Homo sapiens: one gene and its partners. The protein of the gene in region 4 interacts with the protein of the main gene of each other region in a pairwise test. Each region holds a gene or a part of one and is shown on either strand. Other genes may lie near its edges.

Region 1 (7,027 bases), on a different chromosome or scaffold from region 4:
TAGCTGCGTGTTCTGCATCCCCGTTTCAAAAGCAACCGTTCGGCACCTAAAGAAGATGTTAAGAGAGCACATGTTTTAGTAGTTTTGTTATTGTGAAACATGAAAAGCAGATATAATAATAAGTACATATATATGCATTATGTCTCTGCTTTTAATGCATGTATTTAAGATAGGCTTATTCAATATATAACTTTCTATGGAATAAGTGTAATACTTATTAATGTATATTATACATCATCTCACCTATTGTATATAATATAAATAAATATATTTAATATGTGCATATGAAGAGTTGGCTCATTTACCACAGTGTTAGGTAAGTGGCCAAGAGGGTTCATTTCACCCTTTTCAATTATGATTTTGGTAACAGTGTAGAGCACAGGGCAGCAGCTCAGAAAATGCTCAAGATATGGTATTTGTTGTCGCTGTTTTATTGTTTAATTTGTTTTGTTTAGGCTGGGCTAAACAGGTGGCTCACACCAGTAATCTCAGCACTTTGGGAGGCTGAAGTGGGAGGATTTCTTGAGCCCAGGTGTCCAGGAGTTCAAGACCAGACTGGGCCACATAATGAGACCCTGTTTCTAAAACAACAAAACAAAACAAAAAAATTAGCCAGGCAAGGTGGTGTGGGCTTGTAGTCCCAGCTCCTCGGGAGGCTAAGGCAGGAGGATCACTTGAGCCAAGGCTTCAGTGAGCTATGATTGTGCCACTGGACTCCAGCCTGGGCGACAGAATGAGACCCTGTCTCATAAAAATAAAAAATTGTTGTGTTTAAATCTTGACAGAAAGTCTATAAGGTAGAAATTATTGTCCCCATTCTACAGATGATAAAACTCAGAGAAAGAGTGAATGCTGGGCCTGAGGTCCCCCGGGCAGTGTGTGGTCGGATTGGAAGGCAAGCCCAGGTCTGCCTGACTCAAACACTGCGCTCTTCTTGCTGCCCATACCCACTCCTCTCTTTCCCAACTTCATACATGCATCTGTCCCTACACCTGTGTTCTCTCTGCCTGTGGATTCGATGGATTAGTCAAAAAGAATTGTTTTTGCCCGGTACCAAATCCAGAAGTGTGAAACCCATTTTAATATTCGGCGCCTTTGGAGGATGAGCTCACCCTGCTGCCAGCTGGAGGAACGCTTGTCTATTCCAAGGCAGCCCAACTGCTTTCATTAATGTCATTCCACTCAGAGAATAAGAATACTTAGCAATGGAAGAGCCCCATCTGCCTTGTAAGCCGAATGGTCCAGAAGACTTTGAGCAAAAAAGAGGCAGTCAGTATTTTCTTTCTGGGGACTTGCATGACTTCAGAATGAATGGGCCTATTTAGAATGACATATTCAGAAATAGGATGAATGTGATTGATGAAGGGCTAAGGATTTTGATCCTGTCTTCAGTGTTTGCAGCTGTTATGGATTGATTATGTCTCCCTTTCCCCCAAATTCATATGTTGAAGTCCTAACACTCCGCACCTCAGGATGTGACATTATGTGGGAACAGGGTCATTGCAGATATAATTAGTTAAGATGAGTTCATTAGAGGAGGCCCTTATCCAATGACTGGTGTCCTTATCAAAAGGGGAGCCAGGCCACAGAGAGGTGCACTGAGGAAAGACACAGGAAGAAGATGGATGTCTGCAAGCCACGAGGAAGGCCAGTAAGGGATCCCTCCATCATAGCCCTTAGAAAGAATCAATTCAGTGACACCTTCATTTTCACTTCTAGTCTCTGAAACCATGAGACAATAAGTGTCTGTTGTTTAAGCCACTCAGTTTGTGGTTCTGTCTTATGGCACCTCTAGCAAAGGAATACAACAGATATTACAGATTAAAATTCCCAATGTGATTTACTAAATGCCATACCTGTACCAGGGTAGACCAGCAATTCTAGCCAGAAGAAACCCCAGGGAGTAACCCGCCACAGGAAATATTGTTCCTATAATCCACAGTTTGGGAGCAATGATCCAGGCGCTTTGGTACAATATTCCTCCAACCACAGCTATGAGCACAATGAGGATGGCGCCCGCGATGGACCCAATCTGAAAAAAAAAGGAATAAGTGAACCCAGCAATCATGAGTCAAAGCAAATCCAAGTATGTTTGTCAGAGACAAAACCTCAGCAGTCTCCTTGTCCCTGGGGGAAGTGATGATAAAGTTGTCTTTCTATGTACTCCAAGCCAGGAGGCTGCAATCAGCCCACTGGAAATACTGACGCTTGTCCCATGCTTTAAGCTTTAAGAACACAATAGGACATGTAGCAACCATTTGCAATTAGTCTGAAGATTTTCTGACTTGAAAATTATCCTTGTCAGAACAAAAAGACAACCCATTTCGATGACAGCCTGGAAGATTTGGCTTCCAGATTCAACTACTCCTATTCTGTTTCCTTCAGTAAATCAGGAACTTTCTGAACTGTAGTTTCTTTATTTGTAATTGGGGATAAAATGTCGCCCCAGCTTCCCTTTATGATTGTTACGATAATGAGAAAATGGGTATAGAACTCTATACAACTTTAAAAAAGGTATAAGCAAATGAAAACCACTGTTGTTATTTTTTTTCTCCTTTTCACATTTAAAACAAAATTTGGAGATTATAAACATTTTTTGTCAAGAGAAGCAAGGAATACAATGGACTTACTTTGCCCCGAGCAGCAGAATCTATCTATATTATCTACATACATATCCAGATCATCTAGCTAGAATATAGTTAGTGAATGGGATTGCCAGGCAATGAAATGGCCATATGCATACAGACATAAGAAAGATATGTTCTATTTTCTAAGAAAGCCATTTAGATATATTGTATAACACAAACTCACATAACAGAGATAACAGTAATATGCCCTGAGGACAGAATAGAGTAAACCCAAGAGGTGATAGTTCAGTGGAGTGTCTTAAAGAATGGGTAGAAATTTTTCCTGTGACTGCAATAAAGAAGGGCATGCTAGGCTGGGCGCAGTGTCTCATACCTGTAATCCCAGCACTTTGGAAGGATCACTTGAGCACAGGAGTTCAAGAACAGCATTAGCAACATAGTGAGATCCCACCTCTCTCTCTACACACATATAAAGAAGGACATTCTAAAGGAGAAGACTGCATGGCTAATGACTTCAGGCCCCCACTCAACAGTAATCATATAATGAGAATGAAACCATTTCATGGATGGAAAACCCTATGGTTTTGATTGTCACAGTGGAATATTTAATGGTGTGAACTGGGATACTTACTTTAAGTATGATCTTTGCTTTTTGGGGCCATTTGTGATTAACAAACATTCCAATGGAAACAGGAACAACGAGAGAAACCAGAGATGTACCTAAAGATGACAGAAGGGCAATGTGATCAGCAGAACAGGTGACACAGGAAAGAGAAAAACAGAAGAACAAGCAGCCTGAAGAAAGATTAGGTGGTATTTCAGTCTTCCTTCTTGAATACACAAAACAGAATACAGAATTACACACACACACATGCACACACACACTCACTCAACTTCTTCACCCACTCCAGTAAATAATTTAATATTATTGGTAGATAATTGATAATATCAATGCTGTAAATTCTTTCACTAAATTCTGCATTAATTTTTTAGAGTTTCTTATTTTGCCAGCATACATTAGTTTTAATTTGTCAGAATCTTGGCTTCTTTAGTCTTTGGATCTTTATATCTCTAGGAAAAATAGCTCACCAAGGTGTGTGTGTGTGTGTGTGTGTGTGTGTGTGTGTGTGTGTGTGTGTATGGCATACAAAGATGACATTTTACATTTGTCTGCTAGTTCATGGTAGTAGAAATAAAAAATAATTTTAAAATATTTTAAAATGAAAGAAAATGTCCAAAATTAGCTCAAGATCACCAGGTATTCTGACATCTGACTTTTGGTTAAAACTAGCTTTAGCTATTCAAATTTACAGCAGAGAGGTGAGAACAAAAGTTGAGAAAGCGTGCTTTAAATTTTCCATGAGATAATATATTTGACGAACTCTCATGTAATTATAGTTCTTTGCAGTAACATGCTCACCTGGCCAGATAAAAGAGTCATACTTCAATTTCACCATGTTAAATTTACTGCTGTTTTTGCGACATGTGGTTTGTTTCTCCATGTTATTTAACACTCATTTGTCCAATAGCTGATTTCATATAATTTAGCACCAACAACTTCTAACTTTTCATAGGTTGTTTCTTTTTCAAACATCCTTTTAAAGCAGTATAAGAAAGTGATATTGAACGGTGAAATTCTGAGAGTGGATGTTGCTTAGTATTGATTAACTAGGTAGATTGAACTAGGACTAGAAAACAGATTCTGGAATCCAAGGCTATAGATATTAATTTAAAGTGAATGCAATAATGATGAAAACATAATTTCCTTGTAGTCTTCTAGCCCTCCTGGCAATATAAGGGTCAGTGATGACTTTTGCCCAGAAATTACTTAGCAGAATTAAATAATGACTAAGGGTACTAAGAGTAGGAAAAAAAAAGATAAATGAGGGGGAGTAAGGAGGGAATAATGGAAAAAAAGATGTGAAAGAGTGGCGTTGACACACGTACTGCTGAGATGCCCCAGAAAAACCCCCCTTGGGTATCCTTGCATCCTGCTGTTTTGGGAGTGATATGGTTTGGCTCTCTGTCCCCACCCATATCTCATGTTGAATTATAATCCCCAGTTGGAGGATTACAACTAAAGGACGGGTCTGTTGGAGGAGGGGCCTGGTGGGAGGTGATTGAATTGTGGGGGGCAGACTTCCCCCTTGTTGTTCTTGTGATAGTGAGTTCTCATGTGATCTGGTTGTCTATAAGTGTGCACACCTCCTTCTTTGCTCTCTTCCTCTGCTCCAGCCATGTAGAAGCTGCCTGCTTCCCCTTCCCCTTCTGCCATGATTGTACGTTTCCTGAGGCCTCCCCTGCCATGCTTCCTGTACAGTCTGTGGAACTGTGAGCCAACTAAACTTCTTTTCTTTATAAATTATCCAGTCTCAGGTAATTCTTTATAGCAATGAGAGAACAGATGAATACAAGAAGGAAACTCCCTCTCCTGGGTCTTTAGACCATTGCCTAAGTTTTTGAAGTTTGTAGGTCTTAAAACCATCTGGATATATGACTTGTTTGTGATGTGGTAGCTTAAATCTAGCTGCAAGTCCTGTGCTTGGAATGTTAGTGTGGTTAGGTTTTGGTCCTATATTTTAATGTGCTGAATCTGTTTGGCCCCTCCTGCTAAGAGTATTCATCTTTTTGAGGCAGCCCAAGCCAACGGGATAACACATAAGCAGCACCACCTGCTGAAATCCATGGCAGAATTGCTTTTCTTTCCTGACCAGATGAGGCCAGATGAAGTTTTTCAGGGACCTGGGGTTGACTGGGAAAGGGACTCTGTCTTTCTTTACACCCACAGTGTGTGGCTTCTGCTTGTAGAGGTGGATGTTGTAACTTTGGTCTCCAGTGGGCTGGTGATCTTGCTCTTTTCTTTCCCCATGCTCTGTTTGTTTTACGTATGCCTCATATGCCCATGTTCTCTCTGTAAAGTGCCTGTCTATGTAGATGAAAAAGCATCCACTCATGGTTACACATTGAATCCATAACTTGGTCTTTAATCAAGTTTACACAGTAGATATCAGAGGAAAGAAAGGTAGAAAGAAGAATGAGAATGAAAGAGAGTGGTGGTGAATGGATTCATGTGGTGGGACTGGGAGCCAGATAGATTTGGAACTGAACCTTTCTGTATTCCCAAACTGTGGGAACTGTGCAAATCATTGAACCCCTCTGAGCTTTTGTTTCCTCATTTGTAAAATGGGTGGAGTTATGTCTGCCTTACAGTGCTGTTGTGAGAATTAAATGATGAAATGGCTATAAACTTCTTGGCACAAGACACTTAAAAATGTGGGGTAGAGAGGAGTAAGTACAACAATTTGCAGCAGTGGTTTTATTTTAGTGGTACCAGCTGCATGGTCTGCCTCCTCTCGATCCAGATGTCAGCATCTGAGGGGGCTCACAGGTGTTTACTGAATCACTGGAGCATGAAGTTGTACCAAACACGTCTGCCCATAGAGCTGTGTAGAGAATAGACTGTGGGCTATTCCAGCTTCCTGGTGACCTTGGGCAAATAATCACCCTGAGCCACAATTTAGAAAGCAGTGATAACATCTTGTGAAGCAGTCAGTTCATTTATTTTCTATGTTAAAGAACTAGAAAAACCAACAGCAAAAAGGTGAGCTTGGAGGCCTGGGCAAACATGGTGAGCAGGGTTAATATCTGTAGAAAGTAAAAAGTTTCCTCTTCAAAGTGTCCCTTGTTGTTAAAGGAAAATAATAATAATAATAAACATTAGAAATAATAATTTCTTTTAAAGACTAACTTTCTTCAAGCCCCCTTACTTTGTGCTAGTAACTCTTTGTTAAGCCCTATTCTATGTAGCTGTTAGATATAAAGGAATAAGTACATTCTATGTCCTTGTACTTTAACCAAGATATTTATGCTGAACATGCTCACAGGTACATTCCAGCTTGCAGCCTATGCCCCTTCCTTATTTGGAAATATTATTACTTTTCTAAGTCCTTTCACAAGCAACGTCCTCTTTTCCTTTGTTGTCTATTGCCTATACCTATTTAGAAAAGTTTTAAATTATTAGCCAGTCAGGTTTTAGCTTAGATTGTGATGTCTGGCTCCAGCCAATGGAGACAGGACACAGTAGCAGGGACAAGCTGCATAAGGGATACGAATTACTTCCCTCCATTGTTCAGGTGTGCTGTCACCATTGTGCCATCTGTGAGGAGCACTCTTTCTGCAGAAAGTAAAATTGCCTTGCTGAGAAAACTTTTTGTCTGAATGCTCATTTTTCCTTGTGGTACTGAGGAACAAGTATTCTGTTTCTGAATAAATATTTTACATATAACAATATCTTTGTTTTTCAAACTTCTCTCTTTTTCCGTTTTCTTTTCTCTTTTCCTATTTTTCTTTTCTTTTCACTCTTGACCTCTTATGATGACCTTTTCCTCCATTGAAGTGCTAATTGATTTTTCATTTTCTCCTTATTTCAAAATTTATTC
Region 2 (7,651 bases), on a different chromosome or scaffold from region 4:
GCCTCACTCAGAAGGACTAACAGATGTGTGACTTGGGCAAATTCCTGCCATGCCACCAGGCAGGGAGGGGGACAGAGCCCGGCGGGCTGGACCTGGGGCAGGAGGAAGTGTGGTCATGTGAGTGGTATCCTGTCTCCCGGGCCAAGACGCCAGGCAGCGGCCAGACGTGTGTGTTGTGTGTTCAGGGAACCGTCTCCACTCTCCTCGCAGAGAGGAGTGGCCCAGGGACCACACACCCCACCCACGCCAGCAGCAGAGCACCCAGCCCCCTGCTCGCCCTCTGGCTGCCACAGGGCACAGGGGCCCATCCCATGCCCAATGCAGCTGCAGAGGCAAAGCCTCGGGGAGCCAGAGCCACTCTCCAGCATCCAAGGCACCACGGGCAGAGCGCAGGGACGTGTGTGCTGGGAGGGCCTGGCTGCAACCCAAGGGGTCGCCGCAGGATCCAAGAGTGCTCTGGTCCCAACTTAAAGGACTAAGGACCCCCCAACCTTGTCCAGAGAGGACCCAGCCTCCACCCTGCCTGGTGCAGCTGCCCAGAGGCAGAGAGCAGTGATTAAGTAACCAAGGACCCCACACCCCTACAGCCTCTGAGGGCCGAGCCCAAGATCCTTCCCAGCAGAGCACAGTCTGACCCCGCTCCAGGTTCTGCATAACTGGAGAGCACCTCCAGGTTAGCGGAAGCCATGGGCCTCCGCAGGGACACAGTTCCCACCTAGGGAAGGGGAAGTGGCAGGGCCAGTGCCCCCATACCGACAGCAACTGCGCCACCACCTCGGCGCCCCCCAGCCCTGGGATATCTGGCCCATCCCTCGCTGCCGCTGGTCTCTCACCTCTCCAAGTTCAGGGGTTTGGGCAGAGAAGAGCTAAGAGCTTCAGAGACACCTCACCAGACACCCCCACGTCCCAGGTGGGGAAACAAGCCCCGCTGTTCCTGGCAGGACCAGGACCGGAACCCGGCTCCTCCGGCAGGCTGGACACCGGGATGGCAGGGCATGGACAATGACACGCAGGCAGACCCTCTGCTCCTCCATGTTCTGAGTCCCCTCCATGTGCCTTCACACTCACACAGCTCTGCCAGCCCCCCAACCCGGTGCAGCTCCGGGAGAGAACTATGTCCCGAAGGCAGCCAGCGCCCCACCCTGCCCTCCCTCCACCTTCACTCCAAAGGCTAATGTTTCTGCTGGGTGGTGACCAACTGTGTCAAACTGACGTCCCAGTTAGGGTTTGTCACGGGGTCCCTGTGCAGGCAAGCAGCCACAACCTGCCCCCGAGGTCCCAGCCTCTTGTCCCCACCTCTAGGTTGCCCTTCCTTCCCAGGAAGTTGCCTGCTAAGGCTCTGAAATCACTCACTTCCCCGTGACTCCACTCTAGGCCTTACACACACACTTTTGAAATCAAGTCTAAGTCCAAACCAGGGTTTCTTAATTCCATCTCAGTGGCTTCAACTTCCTCCTCCGAGACACAGCTGAAAACCCTGTCCCGGCCAACTCTGCCCCTACTTTCTAAGCAATCTGAACACCCCCAGCTGCCAAGGGTTTATATTTAATTAATCCTTATTTAAATGTGAATCCTCAAAACCTCCACAAAACAAGCCTCTAGCTGCACCTCGGGGCCCTATAAAAACCAAAAAGCGTGTGCAGGTCCAATGCGAGGATATGAAAAAAATAACTCCTGCCTCAAAGAAACACGGGGTTTCCATCCTGGTCCAGCTCGTGGAAGAGCGTTTCAAGCCAACTTTGGATAAAGCAGCTCTTACGGCCGTCGCTTCTCCCACTGAGGTCTGTCCTGCTGGTGCACTTACTTCCAAATGCCCCTTCCGGGAAAATGAAACCTTCCACCACCTTCGACGATCAACTGCAGAGTAAACTTGCGGAAAGTGAAGGAAAAAGCAGACACCTGATTCCTTGCAAGTCCCAGAACAAAGACGAAAGGACCACGAGTCCCGTTGTTACCATTTCTACATCCCAATCACTTGGGGTGCAATGCCCCAAGATCTAGGAAAAGGAATCCACCCTTTTGCCCCCACAAAATGTGTTCAGAGCCAAGGGTGAGCGGACCCGCACTCTCCCACACCGCATTCGGGCAGCCTGTCTGTCCCTCCCATAAAGGGCTCTGGTCAAGATCCAAGTCAAGCCGGACCCACTCCCACAAGCAGAGCTGTGAGGTCCTGGGGGTTAGGGCGGGGGTCCTCAGAGCTTCCAGGGCCAGTCCCCAGGCTGCAGACCCACTCACCTGCAGACAGGACAGCCTCCTACGACCACGATAGAGTTGGCAGGATAGCGGGTGACGGTCCGGCTGTGGATGTTGTAGACCCTGGGATGGTGGGTGGGTATCCCTGTGGGCGGGAAAGCAGGTCATTAGGGTGCAGGGAGGAGAAATCGGACCGCCACGGGGACTACTCATCCTGTCCCCTCAACCTCCACCCCGCTAAAAAAGCCCCCGGTCTTTTCCACCCTCGGGACGGCCACCGCGGGCCTGATTCGGCGCTAATCTGCCAACAGCGAGCGCCTCGTGACACAAAGTTCATCTGGGGCAGGGATCCGGCCCCGCCGGGTTACGACGGGCCCGAGGACTAGAGCCCCGGGGGGGAGGCTGGCCCTCGGCGGCGCCGGGTCCCGAAGCCAGCCCGGGGACCTCCAGCTCCAGGAAGGACCCCCGGGCGGGCCCCACCCGCCTCCGGACCCACGTCCCCCGACCGGGCTTGCCACCTCGGAAGCCGCCGGCGGGGAAAGTTGGTTACGGGCCCACCTGTGACGAGGTAGGGGTAGGGCGGCGGCGGGGGCGCGGCGGGGATGGCGCCGTAGCCGTGCGGGCCGCACGCGTAGTCGCCCTGGCCGGCCTCCAGGTTGTAGGCGGGCGGCCGCTCCTGCAGCAGCGGCTTGTGGTCCATGGCGGCCCGGCCGCGCCCGCCGCTCCGGCCCGGCTCGGCTCGGTCGGCCCCGGCGGGGGACGCGGCGGCGGCGGCGGGGACGCGGCGGACCGGGTGGCTCGGGCCCCTCTGAGGCAGACGCGGGGCGGGGCGGGGCGGGCGCGAGCCGCGGGCTTCCCCCGCCCTCCCGGGCCCAGTCACAAGACCGGGGTCACGTGGGCGGCGGGAGGCGGGGCTCGGGGGCGGGGCCGGCGGGGCGTCTTAAAGGGGCCGCGCCCTCCCGAAGCCGCCCCGCCGGCGGCGCCTCTGCACTCCGCCCCGCCCCGCCGCCGCTGCTCTCTAGACCTCCCGTGGCGGGGAGACCCCCCCCCCCGCCCATCCCCCACGACGACCCAGAGACGCCCCATAGGGTCATGACCTTTAGGGCTCGCGGATGCACCCCCACCTCCCCCTACGCCCCGATCTCCCAGGCCGGCCGAGGTCCCCCTACCGGTGGAGGAGGGGGAGGGCGGGGCCTGAGAGGGGGCGGGGCCGGGTGGGTCCCAGGCCGCCCCAACGCCAGCCCTCTGCCCCTATGATCGCCAGCGCTTCCAGCAATACAAAGGGCACACCCGGGTGTGCACCTCAGCTGCGGCCTGCGCGGTGCTCAGCTGCGGCGCATTCCCTCCGTTTGCCTTTTTTTGGACAATTAGGTGATTGACGGGGGTAGTAGCCAGTGCTTACAAATAACTCCCCCGTTTGGGGACAAAACTATAAATACTGGGCACCTGCCGCGTCTCCTCAGTTTCCCTAATCTTCAGGCAGCCCTGCCAGGTGTTTTGCTTACCCCTGGAGGACAACACGGGATCGGGCTCAGAAGGGGGAGGGATTTGGCTGTGGCAGGTGCGGGTCAGAGCCCGTATCTAAACCTGGGTGTTTTCTGGCCTCGGGGACTGCGTCAGGCGCCCTCGTTGAAACATTTCCTCATACAAGGCTTCACGGGTTGGCCAGGACAACTTTAAAACGAACGATTGGAACGTTCAGGATTGCTTGCGTCCTTAGCGCCTCTGCACCTTTTCAGGGGCACCTGTATCCGTTACTGTATTCTGTCTCCAGTTTTCTCACCTGCATTTTGATATCACCTGCACTGTAGCTCTGGGACGACTACAGCTCTTCTCGAACCGCGCCTTTTTAATTTTTAAAAAAAAAATTTGTAGGGGGTGCTGGGGGGGCTCTCTTGCTCTGTCACCCAGGCTGCAGTAGAGTGACACAGTCATTGCTCAATGCAGTCTCGACCTCCTGGGCCCAAGCCATCCTCCCACCTCAGCCTCCTCAGTAGCTGGGGACCACAGGCACACGCCACCATGCCCAGCTAATTTTTAAAAATTTTTGTATGGGATCTTGCTATGTGCCCAGGCCAGTCTCAAACTGCTGGCCTCAACCAATCCTTTTGCATCAGCCTCCCAAAGTGCTGGAATTACAGATGTCAGCCCCTGCACCCGGCCTTATTTTTATTTTTTAATAAGGGATCATCATTCACATGTATATATACACACACATACATATATATATATATATATATATATATATCTTTTTTTTTTTTTTTTTTAACAGAGTCTCACTCTGTGGCCCAGGCTGGAGTGCAGTGATGCAACCCTGGCTCACTGCAACGTCGACCTCCGGGGCTCAAGTGATCCTCCCATCTCAGCTTCCTAAGTAGCTGGGGACTACAGGTGCACGCCACAGTGCCCAGCTAATTTTTTTTTATATTTTGTAGAGATGGGGTGTTGCTATGTTTCCCAGGCTGGTCTCAAACTCCTGGGCTCAAGTGATCCTCCTCACTCAGCCTCACAAGGTGCTGGGATTATAGGCATGAGCCACCAAGCCCACCTGACCATCATATTTCTTTATCACAAGACCAGCTCTTCGAAGCCCATTCCCATCGATCTTGTACCTGCTGTCCTAGTCATCGTACCCACAGTCCTCGAAAAAGGAACTGAGGGGTGGTCCAGGTACACTAGGGAACTGAGGGGTGGCCCCTGGCACTGATGAACAGCCAGATCAAGAGTGAAGACTGGGCCGGGCGTGGTGGCTCATGCCTGTAATCCCAGCACTTTGGGAGGGTGAGGTGGGTGGATCACTTGAGGTCAGGAGTTCGAGACCAGCTGGCCAACATGGTGAAACCCCGTCTCTACTAAAAATACAAAAATTGGCTGGCCATGGTGGGGGGTACCTGTAATCCCAGCTACTCTGGAGGCTGAGGCACGAGGATCACATGAACCTGGGAGGCGGAGGTTACAGTGAGCCAAGATCGTGCCATTGCACTCCAGCCTGGATGACAGAGTGAGATTCCATCTCAAAAAAAAAAAAAAAAAAAAGAGTGGAGACTGGCCAGGAGTGGCCAAGGGCTTTGGAGCCAGTAGAGGCTCTGGTAGGCAGTGAGGAGGCCATTGTTCCTGGGGGCAGCTGTCCGGGCACCACAGGGTGACAGCCCCTGGCCAGAGAATACTGGGGTGCAGCCTCGTGCCTCATCAACCATGAAGAGATGTGGCTCACGTCAACCCTCCTAACACTTGGTCAACAGGGGCCACCTGGATTCTCCTCCCAGCCTTGCAAACTGCTGAGGAGTAGCAGCTGCAGGCCCGGTGATCTCCTTTCCTATCAGATCAACAAAAGCTGGCACATTTCCCTTCCATTTCATGGCTAATTGTCCCTTCACTGCTTGCCTGCATTTCCTGATAAACCCTACAAAATCCACAGCTCCTGGTCCCCTTCTCTTCCAACAATTGTTTTTGCCCCAGCAATGCCCCTGGGTTTGGAACTCCAAGTCTGTGAATGCTGGGGTGTGACTTTGGGATGTCCCGGCATGGCTTTGACCAGTGCTGCCCTCAGACACAAAGCAGTTCCTGCCCCTCCAAACGTGCAGTGTGCGGAAGATGGAACTGCTATCCCGGGCTCTGTGTGCAAGCCCTGGGGGGCCAAAGAGGACGATGACAGGGACACAAGTAGCAGACAGGGAGCCAGATAGTAACTGTGGTGGAGGGAGCTTTGTATGGCAAGAGGGTTGGAGTTGCCACACACAGGGTGGTGATGAGCCTGGGTGCCTGGAGAGTTCCAGGGCCACAGCCTGGCTTGGAAGGCCAGTGGCGAGTCAGCCCCAGGGACCAGTGGCAGAGCATTCCAGGCAGAGTGAACTGCAATCCCAAAGAGTATACAGTGGCCCATTATATGCCAGGACTTGTCACTTGGTGTGGCCAGAGCCCTGGAAGAGTCTCTAGAAGGCAGAGGTGGGGCTGGCCAGGGGAGGCGGTGCCGGGCATTGGAGTTGGGATAGCATCCTGTAAGAGCCTATTGGGGAACTGCGTAGAGTTTGAACAGGGGAGTGTGAGCATCGGATTTCAGTATTAGAAAAATGTCTTTGAAGGGAGGGGCACAGTAGCTCACACCTGTCATCCCAGCACTTTTGGAGGCCAAGGTGGGAGGATCACTACAGGCCAGGAGTTCGAGACCAGCATGAGCATCATAGCGAGACCCCCCCCAGCCCCCCGCCCATCTCTACAGAAAATTTAAAAATTAACCGAATGTGGTGGCACGTGCCTGTAGTCCCAGCTACTCGGGAGGCTGAGGCACGAGAATCACTTAAACCCAGGAGACAGGTTGCAGTGAGCCAAGATTGTGCCATTGCACTCCAGCCTGGCGACAGAGCGAGACCCTGCCTCAAAAAAAAAAAAAGGAAACTGAAGCACAGAGGGCCTCCATACGTTTCCAAAGCCTCCCAACCAGTAGAGGTGGGTCTTCAAACAACAGATGTACCACACTTAATCCTAGGATCACCCCACACTGCCTCCATGCCAAGTATACAAGAGAAGTATGCCGCCTCTTGCTGGATTTTTTGTTTGGTTTGGTTTTGGTTTGTTTTTTTGTTTGTTTGTTTTTTGAGATGGAGTTTTGCTGTCATTGCCCCGGCTGGAGTGCAGTTGCACGATCTCGGCTCACCAGGCTCACCTCCTGGGTTCAAGCGATTCTCCTGCCTCAGCCTCCCGAGTAGCTGGGATTACAGGCATGTGCCACCACACCCAGCTAATTTTTTCATATCTTTAGTAGAGATGGGGTTTCTCCATGTTGGTTAAGCTGGTCTCGAGCCCCCAACCACAGGTGATCCGCCTGCCTCGGCCTCCCAAAGTGCTGGGATTATAGGTGTGAGCCACCATGCCCGGCCTCTTGTTGGTTTTAAGAGAAATGCATTCCTATTGAAGAAGACTTGGAATACATAAATATGCATATGTTTCGGATTTCCGAAATTCTGCTACAGAGCAGAATACAAAATACAAAATACAGAATACAGAATACAAATACAAAAGTGGATACAGTCCACTTTTGGATTTCTTTCTTGTTTTTTTTTAGAGACAGGGTCTTGCTCTGCTTGCCTGGCTGGAGTGCAGTGGTGCATTCATAGCTCACTGCAGCCTCAACCTCCCGGGCTCAGTGACCTCCCACCTCAGCCTCCCCAAGTAGCTGGGGCTACAGGTGTGCCATCACCACACCTGGCTAATTTTTTTAATTTTTTTTGAGATGGGGTCTCCCTCTGTTGCCCAGGCTGGTCTTGAATTCCTAGCCTCAAGCGATCCTCCTACCTTGGCCTCCCAGAGTGCTGGGATTACTGGAGTGAGCCATTGCGCCCGGCCTTTTATCCACTTTTGTATTATGCAGACATTTATTTTTATTTTTATTTTTTTGAGACAGAGTCTTACTCTGTCACCCAGGCTGGAATGCAGCAGCATGATCTTCGCTCACTGCAAT
Region 3 (7,027 bases), on a different chromosome or scaffold from region 4:
GGTAAAATATCCATTTTATGTGAAATCAGCAACTCATTCCATTTTTTTAAATGTGCAAACCAAACAATACATGTCAAAGGGCCAGCTGTAGCCCAAAGGCCCCAGTTTGAGATAAGCACAATACTCTACATCCCATTTAGAACTGGAAGGAATTGTAAGACACAGATCCCATTTTACACATGAAGAGGCTGAGGTCAGAGACTTGCCAGAGGTTTCCCAGAGTTTGTGGGAAACTGTGTCTCCCTCCACTCACTCTGCCTCATAGGTGGAGTCAGTCTGGGGACAGCCTGCCATCCCAGGAGGCCAGGCCACCAAGCAGACCCCTCAATGCAGCCAGGGACGGCAGCTCCCTCCTCAAGGAAGGCCACTAGACAAGTTTCAAAAAATGTAGGTGACAAACAGGCAAGAGAAAACGCCCTCACAGTTGAAGTGAGTATGGCTTGTCAGGCACAGAGAAGAGAGTGCTATGCCAGCAGGAACTGGCCTCTTTTGACCATCCTTGCTGCCCCAAGTTCATCTGCTCCCCCTGCCACCATCGGACTCACAGCAGAGCCCAGAGCCAATGGCCATGGGGACAATGGGCTTGGACACAACCCAAGCACTTCCACAGGTCTCCCAGCCATGATGTAGGAAGCTCAACCAGGACAAGATGGAAGCCACTGGGGTCCCAGAAGTTTTCCACTTCATAGAGACTGTGTTGAGGCCCCTCACAGCTCCCTCAGCTTCTGCCTCCAATCTGTGCATTGACGGACACTCGAACGAGTCCCTTAAATGGGGTACACAGATGTCCAAAAGCAAGGTCTATGCTGTGCTCTTGGAACTTAAGCAGGAGGGAAAAATAAAAAAAACAAATGTGCCCCTTTCCCCCTGAAAGGCAACCAGGCCTACAATCTCAGGAATCTAGAGTCTGAAAAAGTCCTTGCCCGTCCCTGTCCCTTGGGGTAAACCAAGGATCACAACAGTCACGGATGCCAGCAGGCTAGGAGATGGATGTCCCTGACCTGACCCCAGGACCTGTGCAAGTGGAGGAAGTACCTGGGGATCAGGGAACATGGCTCCTGCATACCCAAGCTGACAAGGCACACCAAGTCCAAACTCCAAAACTCCTGACACACAAGCCAAAGTAAGCATGATTCCTCTGCTCTAGGTCACCAGAACAAACACACAAGTTGTGTTTGGCTTTTCCCTAAGAGAAGATCAACAGTAGCATTGAAACCCCCTGTATTCCTATTCCCAATCTCATTACCCTCCACCACTTGCCAAAGGGAGCATCCCTGGGAATTTGGTGTTCAGCATTTCCACCGACCCTTTTCAACTATTATATACGTATATATTCATAAACAAGATAGACTGCGGGATTTACGTCTTTTAATTTTGTACGAACAGTATTATACTGTCCACATCACCTAACAGCTTGCTTTTTTTTTTTTTTTTTGAGAAATAGGCATGTAAAGAAAATAGCTACCTCATGTATCTGAACTGCTGTGCAGTTTGCTTGCATTTATCCATTCTCCTGTTGTCAGATTCATGTGGATTTTACGTCTCGCTTCTGTGAACAGACTTGTGTGTGTCCCTCTGCCCACATGAGGGCATATGCAATTGAAGCAGGACTGCTGGGTCGTGGGAGTCACACATCTTTAAGAGGTCTCCAAGGTCATTGTTCACTTCACACGTTCCCTAGCAGTGTCTGAAGATCCCTGTTTCTCTGTGCCTTCATCTATATTTGGAATTGTCAGACTTTTTAATTTTTTCCAAATGAAAACAGTGAAGCAGATCGCAGTAGTTTTAAATTTGATTTCATGGGAGGCCTACCACATTTCCACGTGTGCGTTGGCCATTCATGTGTCCTCTTCTGGAAACATTGGGTCCTTTGCCTGTTTTTCTATGGGATTGTGGTTTGGGTGGGTTTTGAAAATTAATTTCTAAAGTTATTGTTTTATATATGTTGCAACAGTCTATTCACAGTTTGGAGCTGGTCTTTACACTTTGATAATAATGTCTGATAGATTGCTTATGTTAATTTAGTCAAATTTGCCAATATTTTTCCTTTGTGGTTTATGTTTTTTAGGGGTTTCTTTAAGAAATCTTTTACTATCTACAAGCCTGTCCAACATGGCAAAACCCCGTCTCTACTAAAAAATACAAAAAAATTAGCTGGGCATGGTGATGTGCACCTGTAATCCCAGCTACTCAGGAGGCTGAGGCATGAGAATCACTTGAACCCAGGAGGCAGAGGTTGCAGTGAGCCAAAATCATGCCACTGCACTCCAGCCTGGGCGACAGAGCAACACCCTGTCTCAAAAAAAAAAAAAAAATTTACTGTCTACAAAGTTACAAAGATATTACCCTGTATTTTCTTTGAAAAGTTTTAAATGTTTGATTTTCACATGGAGAGCTCCAATCAATGTAGAACTTATTTTTATGTATGGCATGAACTAATTTTATCTTTTCCATACAAATAGAAGATTCCAAGCCACGTTGAGTGAATTTTTCTCCAGGTATTTGTAATGACATCTCTCTCATAAATGCAGGGCTTGTGTCTGGATCTCTCTTCTCTTCTACGGGTCTATGTGGCTACCCTTGTACCAGTTCCACACTTTCTTAATTACAATTTTATAAGTTTTGTTATCTGAAAGTTAAGTCCCCCTACTTTGTTCTTGAAAATCATGGGCCGGGCACAGTGGCTCACGCCTGTAATCCCAGCACTTTGGGAGGTCAAGGCTGGCCGATCACGAGGTCAGGAGATCGAAACCATCCTGGCTAACACGGTGAAACCCCGTCTCTCCTAAAAATACAAAAAATTAGCTGGGCGTGGTGGCGGGCGCCTGTAGTCCCAGCTACTTGAGAGGCTGAGGCAGGAGAATGGCGTGAACCCGGGAGGCAGAGCTTGCAGTGAGCCAAGATCACACCACTGCACTCCAACCTGGGTGACAGAGCGAGACTCTGTCTCAAAAAAAAAAAAAATCATGTTAGCTATTCTTAGCCTTTTACTCTTTCACTTGAGTTTCAGTATCACCTTTCAAGTCTACAAAAAAAATTATAAGTCTGGAAGTTTTATTAAATGTGCATTACATTTATATATAAATTGAGAGACTATCTTTATAATATTGAATCTTCCCATCTATAAATATGATATAGCTTTTCTTTTACTTAGGCCTTTTTTAATACCTTTCTATAAAGGTTTGTAATTTCTTTCATAAAGATCTTACATGTCCTTTAGATGTATAAGTATTTTCTAGTTTTGTGAATATCATAAATGGTGTCTTTTAAAATATATATATATTTGTTTCTAGTATATCAGACCCAATTGATTGACTGACTGATGCTAATGTATTTAGAACCTCATACATTTTCTTACTTACCAGTTATAATGGAAAATTACTTAGATTTCTTCTGTGGACAATCCTATCATTGGCAAAACAAGAAAGTTTCATTTCTTCTTTTCCCATCCCTATACTTTTTCTATTTCTTGTTTTGCTGTGCTTACTAGGGCCTATATATAGTATAATTTATAAAACAGGTAATAATAATGACTATCTTTGCTTTATTCCTCTTGTTAAAGAAAATCCCTCTATTTACCATTAAGTTTAACGTTTAATATACTTTTTCTAATAGATTTCCTTTCAAGTTAAGGAATTTTCATTCCGTTGCTAGTGTACTAAATTTTTATTATGTAAGAACATTAAATTTTGTTGACTTTTCTATAGCTACAAAATTGTACCATTTCTTTAATAATATAGTAATATGTATTAATAGATTATCTAATGTTAAATCATTCTTACTCATCTTGTTCATTGTATTTTTTAAAACACTTATTTGCTAATATTTTATTATTTTTGTTTCTATGTTCATAAATAAGAGTGGTCCCCAATTTTCTTTTCTCGTAATATCATTCTCCAGCTTTCGTTCCAAGATCATATTAACTTTATACAATAAATTAGGGCATGTTTCCCCTTTTTATATTATCTGGACAGATTTGCATAATATTGCAACAATCTGCACTTTGCATGTTTAGTAGAACACTACCGTAAGACAGTATAAATCATGTAGGGTTCTAGAAGATAGGTTTTGAACTGCTTATTAAATGTCTTAAATGATTCTAAGTTGAATCAGGTTTTCGGCTTCATATTGACTTGGTTTTGTAGGTTATATTTCCCATGAAATTGTCCATTTAAGTTAAAAATGAAAGTATGAAAATGTCCTTAATGACTTTTTAAAATCTTCATTTTCTCTGTAGTTATGTTCCCTTTTTCACACTAACCTCATCAATTTGTGCCATCTCTCTTTTCCCTGGTCTGCCTTGCCAGAGGTGCCTATTTAATTGGCCTTTAAAAAAAAAAAGAAAAAAAAAAAACCCTATTTTTGGTTTTACTGATTCTAACAATTTACAAAACTTAAAAAATTTCTTCCTTTTCTTTTTATTGGGTTTTTCTCATTCTAACCTCTTAAGGTGCTTAACTCATTAATTTTTAATCTTCTTTTTCAATATAAATATGTTAGGCTATAAATTGCCCTTTAATAATTGCTTTATTTGCTCCCTGCATGGTTTTTAATTACTATTTATTGAGATATAATTCACATACCATAAAATCCATTCTTTAAATTGTACGATGCCTTGGTTTTTAGCATAATTCCAAGCCTGTGAACCTATCACCATTATCTAATTTCAGAACATTTTCAATACCCCAAAAAGGAACTCCATCCCATTTAGCAGGAGTCCCCATTTCTCTCTCCTGCTCCAACCCTTGACAACCACTAATCTTTCTGTCTCTATGGATTTCACATAAATGGAAGCATTCAATATGTGACCTTTTGTATCTATACTTCTTTCACTTAGCATATTTTCAAGGTTCATTCATGTGATAGCATGTCACAATACTTCATTTGTTTTTGTAATTGAATAATATCCCATTGTATGGATATAATACATTTTGCTCATCCATTCATTCAGCTGATGGACACATGGGTTGTTTCTACTTGTTCCCTAGTATGAATAATGTCTATGGAAGCTCACAGGCAAGTTTTTGTGTGAACATGCTTTCTGTTCCCTTGGGATATATACCTAAGAGTAGAATTGCTGGGTTATATGGTGACTCTGTGTTTAAATTTTCTAGAAACTGCCAAACTATTTTCCAAAGCACCATTTTACTTCCCACCACCAGTGTATGAGGATTCCTAATTTTCCATATACCCTCCAACACTTGTTATTGTCCAGCTTTTTAATTATAGCCATGCTAGTAGATATAAAGTGGTATCTCAAAGTGGTTTTGATTTGCATTTTCCTAATAAGTAATGATGTTGAGCATCTTTTCATGTGCTCATTAGCCATTTGTATATCTTCTTTGGGAAAATATCTCATTCAAATCCTTGGCCCATTTTTTACTTGTTTTTTATTATTGCATTATAAGAGTTCTTCATATATTGGCCGGGCGCGGTGGCTCACGCCTGTAATCCCAGCACTTTGGGAGGCCCAGGCGGGTGGATCACGAGGTCAGGAGATCGAGACTATCCTGGCTAACACGGTGAAACCCCATCTCTACTAAAAATACAAAAAAAATTAGCCGGGCGTGGTGGCAGGCGCCTGTAGTCCCAGCTACTCGGGAGGCTGAGACAGAAGAATAGCGTGAACCCAGGAGGCGGAGCTTGCAGTGAGCCGAGACTGCGCCACTGCACTCCAGCCTGGGCGACAGAGCAAGACTCCATCTCAAAAAAAAAAAAAAAGAGTTCTTCATATATATTCTGAATATTAGACCCTTATCAGATATATGACTTGCAAATATTTCCTCCCATTCTCTTGTTGGCTTTTCACTTTCTTGATGGTGTCCTTTGAATCACAAGTTTTTAATATTAATGAAGTCTGACTTGCCTTTTTCTTTGGCTGTTCGTGCTTTAGATGTCTAAGAAACCATTGCCTAATCCAAAGTCCCCTCTCCATGTTTTTTAAATATGTATTTTATTATTTTTATATTCTAAATACTGTTTCCACCATGATTTCATATTTGATGATATAATTAGAAAGTTCCCCTCCCCTCATCCCATGATCCTTTTATTGGTTGCTCAGTTTCAATGCTCCTCCCATCCCAGGTCTAATACCTCAATTCTGGTCCCTTCCTTGGGCATTAAAGCCTCCACAGTGCCAAGACTAACACCCCACTCCCCTCCAGAACCCCTCTATGAAGCTTCAGCTTGAGTTCCCCCACTACTTTGCATTTGTTTCTTGTCCGTGGGCACCTTTTTTTTTAGTGGAGTGGCGCTAACATAGCTCACTGTAACCTCAACCTTCTGGGCTCAAGCCATCCTCCTGCCTCAGCCTCCCAAGTAGCTGGGACTCCTGGTGCACACCACCACACCTGGCTAATTTTTGTGTGTGGTTTTTGGTTTGTTTGTTCATTTGTTTGTGTGTAGAGACAGGGGTCTTACTTTGTTGCCCAGGCTGGTCTCAAACTCCTGGCTTCAAGCAATCCTCCCTCCTCGGCCTCCCTAAATGCTGGAATTATAGGCATGAGCCACTATGCCACACTTAAATTGAGTGTTAATTTCTTACAAGCTCAAGTGTGTATTTAAGTGTTCACGGGGGTGGGGGAGTTCCTATTACCTAGTTCACAATTTTCTTTGAGGGACTCTTCTCACCTCTAACAGCTCTTATCCTTATGACATGCCTACCTATTGTTCTTGATGGCTACGCTCTGGAACCTTTGATATAGGCTGCTCTTCATGCATATTTAAGCCATATTCCATCTTTATAGAAATAATGAAAGAAGTGTAGATGGAGGGTAGGGCTGTGGGGAGGAGGAGGGACACACTGAGTGTGGTTTTCCTAAGATCTTGCCAAGCCCTCACCTCCCAACCATCTTCCCACTGGAATAAAAGTCAGAGCCATATATTGTTAATGTAAATGTCCATAAATCTAAGGAGATGCCCTATCAGCTTCCTTCTCAGTTGACCTTTCTGGAGGGCCTCTCCCTAGACAGGGTCCTGGGACTAACATATATAAGATTCCAAATGGAAAAGGAAATTGGACAAGTAG
Region 4 (6,286 bases):
CCCTCCCACGGGCCCTGAGCTGCCCACATCTGCAGGACTGGCTGCTCCAGACAGCTCGGAGGCAGGCAGCGCGGTGCCCCCTCCACCCCGAGGAACTAAAGCCAGGTCCCCAGCACCACAGAGCAGGGCCTGGGAGCAGCTGGGGAGCCGGTGCCACCTTGCCCCTCCCTGGCCCTGCTGGGGGCTTAACCCTTCCCTCTGTCCTGAGCCGACAGCCTGGATTGCCGACAGGCCGCGAGCGTGGCCTTGGGCCCAGGGTGTCCCGGACTCAGCACTGACGTTCCCGGAAAGAGCCCACGTTGAGTAGGAGCTGAGACCTGCAGGACACAGGAACTCCTCCCAGGGTCCTGGATCCAGCTGCTGCTCACGGCAGGAGGCCCGAAACCAGAAGGCCTGAGCACTTGCCCGGTCCCCAAGAGATGCACAGAGGCCGGAAGGGGCAGTGCAGGGGCTGACCAACCTGCTCAGTCTCAGAACCACGCTCCGAACCCTCAGCCAGACCCCTCCCCAGGTGAAGTCGCAGCAGCACCAGAAACACGTGCACTTTATTGAATGCCATTGTAGAAAAGCGTGTGAGGATAAAGGGCTGATACAGGACTCGGCTCCGGGGGCAGGGCGAGGAATGGAAGTTGGAGTACGTGGGATACAGGTCATGGGCAGAGCTCCTGGCCTCAGTGATGCCTCCTGATCTATCCATAGGCCTGGAAGATCAGCACTGGGATGACGATGAGCAGAATGGTCATGAGGATGCCCAGAATCAGGGCCCAGATGTTCAGGCACTTGGCGGTGGAGGCATAGGCCTGGGCCCCGGTCACGTCGCCAACCATCTTCCTGTCCCTAGACTGGGGGAGAGGAGATGGTGAGGGGACCAGGATCCCCCAGCTGAGAGCCGCGTGCTATGGCTCCGTCTCCTCATTGGCTCTCCCCGCCCTGAGATCAGGGACCACCTCCTCCCCTTCCTCACCCGGGCTCAGACTCTCCAGGAGCCTCGGGGCTCATCCTCCTTCTGCCTTGACCTCAGCACAGGCTGTTCTCCCCACCATGGGGTGAAGTCACCTGTGAGTTCCCTTCTCACTTTCTGGGAGAGCCTGGGTGCCAGTCTGGAAGGTGAAGGTGTAATTTCTTACTGGGCTATAGGGAGAACTGCTCTGGGCTAGTGGATAGCCGGGGACAGACTCTGAGCCAGCCAGCCAGCCTCCTGGAGCCTCCTCCTAAACCTGCACTGGGCAGATTCCCCAAGCCACACACACACACAGATCACACAGACAAAGCCACTGACGTGGGCACACACGGGACAGAGGTGCACACAAACTCACAGTCACAGGGACACACAAGTCCCCACCCCAGGCAGCATGTGGGCAGGTGGAGCTCCAGGCTCAGCGGCACCCTCTGAGCATTCCCTGGGGCCATACGCACCTTCACGGAGTAGGCGAATGCTATGAAGCCCAGGCAGCAGGGGTTCATGAAGAGGGTGTTGAACAGGGACCAGACGACATGGTCGGGCACGGAGGTCTCGCTGCGGATGTGGATCACGGTGGACGTCGGGGGAGCAGGGTTGTGGGGCGCCCCCAGCACAGCCACCTCGTGCTCCTCCTTGAGCATCTCATAGTTGGGGGGCTGGCCACTGTTGACAGGAGAGAAGAAGGTTTGGACAGTGTGATTCATGGTGTCCAGCGAAGACCAGCGGCGGTCGGGTTACTGGGATGGTTCTCAGTGAGCCCTCCCTTTCCCCAGTAGTTTCGGTTTCTCAACAGTTTCCTTTTCCTGGCATTTGTCAAATCGGGATTTGGCCGGGGCCAGATGAGGGCGGAACAAATTCCTGAGGATCAAATTACTTTAGGAGAGGGAGGAAAGAGGGGCTGAGGGCTAAGAGGGGCTTCCTCTCTAGAGCCCAAGGGAGCACAAGGCTCATCTTGTTAGTGGTGTGGGGTCCTGGAGACTTCCCCTGTGTTGGGGGTCTCCACACCCCAGGCCAGCAGCTGCAGGACCCCACTGTCCCGGTTCAGGGCTCCTGCCAGGCCTGCGCTGACGCCTCCACACTCCAGGCCCCACAACCGTTCCCCCAAAGCCCTCACCTCTGCCGGGCGCCGCGGCTCACGCCTGTAATCCCAGCACTTTGGGAGGCTGAGGTGGGAGGATCATGAGGTCAGGAGATCGAGACCATCCTGGCTGACACGGTGAAACCCCGTCTCCCATAACCCTCACTGTGGTGCCCAGGCAGCTGGATTATCCCATTACCTTCACTATGGTGCCCAGGCAGCTGGATTATCCCATTACCTTCACTATGGTGCCCAGGCAGCTGGATTATCCCATTACCTTCACTATGGTGCCCAGGCAGCTGGATTATCCCATTACCTTCACTATGGTGCCCAGGCAGCTGGATTATCCCATTACCTTCACTATGGTGCCCAGGCAGCTGGATTATCCCATTACCTTCACTATGGTGCCCAGGCAGCTGGATTATCCCATAACCCTCACTGTGGTGCCCAGGCAGCCGGATTATCCCATTACCTTCACTATGGTGCCCAGGCAGCTGGATTATCCCATAACCCTCACTGTGGTGCCCAGGCAGCCGGATTATCCCATTACCTTCAGTGTGGTGCCCAGGCAGCCGGATTATCCCATTACCTTCAGTGTGGTGCCCAGGCAGCTGGATTATCCCATAACCCTCACTGTGGTGCCCAGGCAGCTGGATTATCCCATTACCTTCACTATGGTGCCCAGGCAGCTGGATTATCCCATAACCCTCACTGTGGTGCCCAGGCAGCCGGATTATCCCATTACCTTCAGTGTGGTGCCCAGGCAGCCGGATTATCCCATTACCTTCAGTGTGGTGCCCAGGCAGCTGGATTATCCCATTACCTTCACTATGGTGCCCAGGCAGCTGGATTATCCCATAACCCTCACTGTGGTGCCCAGGCAGCCGGATTATCCCATTACCTTCAGTGTGGTGCCCAGGCAGCCGGATTATCCCATTACCTTCAGTGTGGTGCCCAGGCAGCTGGATTATCCCATAACCCTCACTGTGGTGCCCAGGCAGCTGGATTATCCCATTACCTTCACTATGGTGCCCAGGCAGCTGGATTATCCCATAACCCTCACTGTGGTGCCCAGGCAGCCGGATTATCCCATTACCTTCAGTGTGGTGCCCAGGCAGCCGGATTATCCCATTACCTTCAGTGTGGTGCCCAGGCAGCTGGATTATCCCATAACCCTCACTGTGGTGCCCAGGCAGCTGGATTATCCCATTACCTTCACTATGGTGCCCAGGCAGCTGGATTATCCCATAACCCTCACTGTGGTGCCCAGGCAGCCGGATTATCCCATTACCTTCAGTGTGGTGCCCAGGCAGCTGGATTATCCCATAACCCTCACTGTGGTGCCCAGGCAGCTGGATTATCCCATTACCTTCACTATGGTGCCCAGGCAGCTGGATTATCCCATTACCTTCACTATGGTGCCCAGGCAGCTGGCGTTCAGGCCTGCTCAGGCGTCTCATGACCTTCACTGTACTTCTTAGATAAAACAGAATACTTGAAGTCACTAGTTACAGAGAACAGGAATCTATAAACTCATTCCAAAAACAAAGGAAAATTTGTTTTTTCTTCTCCCTGTGTTAAGGGAGTGCTGGGAGAGTCTCAGAGCACATTAGATAATATTATCAGGACTTTTCCTGGGTCTCAGCTGTGTCTGCTGCTGCCTCCGGGACGAGTCAGCCTGATACAGGAAAACCTATTTCTCTTTCTTTTTAATTTTAATTTTATTTAATTTCCTGCCTCATTCCCTTCCCCTCTGAGGCCTTTTATTGTTATTATTTATTTTATTTATTTATTTTTTTGAGTCGGAGTCTTGCTCTGTCGCCCAGGCTGGAGTGCAGTGGCACGATCTCGGCTCACTGCAAGCTCCGCCTCCCAGGTTCACGCCATTCTCCTGCCTCAGCCTCCTGAGTAGCTGGGACTACAGGCGTCTGCCACCACACCCGGCTGACTTTTTGTGTTTGTAGTAGAGACGGGGTTTCACGTGTTAGCCAGGATGGTCTCGATCTCCTGACCTCATGATCCGCCCGCCTCGGCCTCCCAAAGGGCTGGGATTACAGGCGTGAGCCACCGCGCCCAGCTCTTGACAAAATTTCTTTAGCAGCTGCTTGAGTGTCCAGTTCATGCATTCCACTTTACCTGAGCTCTGCAGCCTGTAAGCTGTATGTAATTTCCACTTTATTTTTAATAATCAAGTTAAGTCCTGAACTATTTCAGCCATAAATATTGGGCTATTGTCTGATCTTAGAGTTAGAGGCAGTCCAAATCTGGGAATAATGTCTCTTAACAACACCTTGGTTACTTCTAGTGCCTTCTCTGTCCGGGTGGGGAAGGCCTCAACCTCCTGAAAAGGTGCAAATGAACACCCACGTGCACTGATAACCCCCCTCTCAGGGTACTTCCTCGAAGTCCGTACCACAGTTTTTCACAGGGTATGGCTGCCTGGCTCCTGTTTCCTGAACTCCTGGGGGCCGAGTAGGCCCTTGTCATGCATTGTTCTGAGCACGAATTTAACACCATTTGTTTACAAATGGCTCGAGTAATAGCAGTGAGCCATGGCACATAGAAATGATGCCTTAACAGGGCCAGGCGCGGTGGCTCACGCCTGTAATCCCAGCACTTTGGGAGGCCGAGGTGGGCGGATCACAAGGTCGGGAGATCGAGACTAACACGTGAAACCCCGTCTCTACTAAAAATACAAAAAAAATTAGCCGGGTGTGGTGGCGGGCACCTGTGGTCCCAGCTACATGGGAGGCTGAGGCAGGAGAATGGCGTGAACCTGGGAGGCGGAGCTTGCAGTGAGCCGAGATCACGCCACAGCACTCCAGCCTGGGGGATAGAGCGAGACTCTGTCTCAAAAAAAAAAAAAAAAGAAATGATGCCTTAATAACGTCTTTAGTGCTGGTTTTTTGGGTTTTTTTTCCAGTGGAACTGTTTTACAAATCTGAGGGCCACCATTCCAGGTATGGCTAGCCTCCCGTTGGAAAATTTTTACCATCTTTCTTCAATGTAGTTCTTATTCTTGTGGGCAAACCAAGACTTTTCGTTTGGAGGGGACCTTGGGATCCCCAGGAGGGGAATCTCCGGGAGCGGGAGGCATAGCTAAGGCTTCCTCTCTAGAAGGTGGAGTTGTCGTTGCAGCCCGTTTGCCTCTTCGTCTGCCTTTCTGCTTTGCTGCTTTTCGGGGCCTCCTGCAGCGCATCACTGCCACCTCTTCCAGGGCCCACACAGCGTTTAACAGAGGTGGAATTTCCTCCTTATACTTTGTTTTTTCACTTCCAGCCGTTAAAAGTCTTTTATTCTTTGTAAACAGCCTCATGAACATGCAAAGTGGCAGAAGCATATTTGGAATCTGTGTAAATACTTGCCTTCTGCTCTTTTCCTAGCCAGAGAGCTCTTGTCAGAGCTATTAGCTCTGCTTTCTAAGCAGAAGTTTCTGCAGACAGAGACGGTACCTCTACTGCTGAGTCCAAAGTCACCGCGGCATACCCAGCTCGGCAGACTCCCCTTAGTACGAAACTGCTTCCATCAGTAAAATATTCAATGTCCAGGTCCCCGAGGGGCCAATCTGTTAAATCTTTCCAGCTTGAGAACACTTTATCTACCACGTCCACACAGCAATGAAGGGGACTTCCTGTGTAGGGTCCAGCCCTACGGGGGCTTAGCGGGTGTTCTCCCCGTGTGCAGAGACAAGAGATCGTAAGAAATAAAGACACAAGACAAACAGATAAAGAGAAAACAGCTGGGCCCAGGGGACCACTACCACCAAGACATGGAGACCGCTAGTGGCTCCGAACGGCTGGCTGCGCTGATATTTATTGAATACAAGACAAGGGGGCAGGGTACGGACGGTGAGTCGTCCAAGTAATTGATAAGGTGAAGCAAGTCACGTGATCATAGGACAGGGGGCCTTTCCCTCTTAGGTAGCCGAGCAGAGAGAGAAGGCAGCATACGTCAGCGTTTTCTTCTATGCACTTATAAGAACAATCAAAGACTTTAAGACTTTCACTATTTCTTCTACCGCTATCTACTACGAACTTCAAAGAGGAACCAGGAGTACGGGAAGAGCATGAAAGTGGACAAGGAGTGTGATCATTCAAGCACCACAGGGAGGGGGTTAGGCCTCCGGATGACTGCAGGCCAGGCCTGGAGAATATCCAGCCTCCCACAAGAAGCTGGCGGAGCAGAGTGTTCCCTGACTCCTCCAAGGAAAGGAGACTCCCTTTCACGGTCGGCTAAGTAACGGGTGC

What was found.
Region 1: the proteins of IFITM3 (region 4) and SLC10A2 interact in binary tests that used the Homo sapiens proteins (3 or more experiments, as listed by UniProt).
Region 2: the proteins of IFITM3 (region 4) and BRI3 interact in binary tests that used the Homo sapiens proteins (3 or more experiments, as listed by UniProt).
Region 3: the proteins of IFITM3 (region 4) and SLC10A1 interact in binary tests that used the Homo sapiens proteins (3 or more experiments, as listed by UniProt).

Annotation. Positions count from the first base shown.
Region 1 is NC_000013.11:103,049,401-103,056,427, forward strand, and holds part of SLC10A2 (ileal sodium/bile acid cotransporter), read right to left. Parts: intron 3,309-7,027; coding exon 3,220-3,308; intron 2,033-3,219; coding exon 1,857-2,032; intron 47-1,856; coding exon 1-46. UniProt on the Homo sapiens protein: Plays a critical role in the sodium-dependent reabsorption of bile acids from the lumen of the small intestine. Transports various bile acids, unconjugated or conjugated, such as cholate and taurocholate.
Region 2 is NC_000007.14:98,277,038-98,284,688, reverse strand, and holds the start of BRI3 (membrane protein BRI3), read right to left. Parts: upstream 3,004-7,651; 5' UTR 2,894-3,003; coding exon 2,752-2,893; coding exon of another isoform or gene 2,712-2,751; intron 2,339-2,711; coding exon 2,236-2,338; intron 1-2,235. UniProt on the Homo sapiens protein: Participates in tumor necrosis factor-alpha (TNF)-induced cell death. May be a target of Wnt/beta-catenin signaling in the liver.
Region 3 is NC_000014.9:69,787,242-69,794,268, reverse strand, and holds part of SLC10A1 (hepatic sodium/bile acid cotransporter), read left to right. Parts: intron 1-7,027. UniProt on the Homo sapiens protein: As a major transporter of conjugated bile salts from plasma into the hepatocyte, it plays a key role in the enterohepatic circulation of bile salts necessary for the solubilization and absorption of dietary fat and fat-soluble vitamins.
Region 4 is NC_000011.10:319,149-325,434, forward strand, and holds IFITM3 (interferon-induced transmembrane protein 3), read right to left. Parts: upstream 1,713-6,286; 5' UTR 1,666-1,712; coding exon 1,417-1,665; intron 843-1,416; coding exon 690-842; 3' UTR 528-689; downstream 1-527.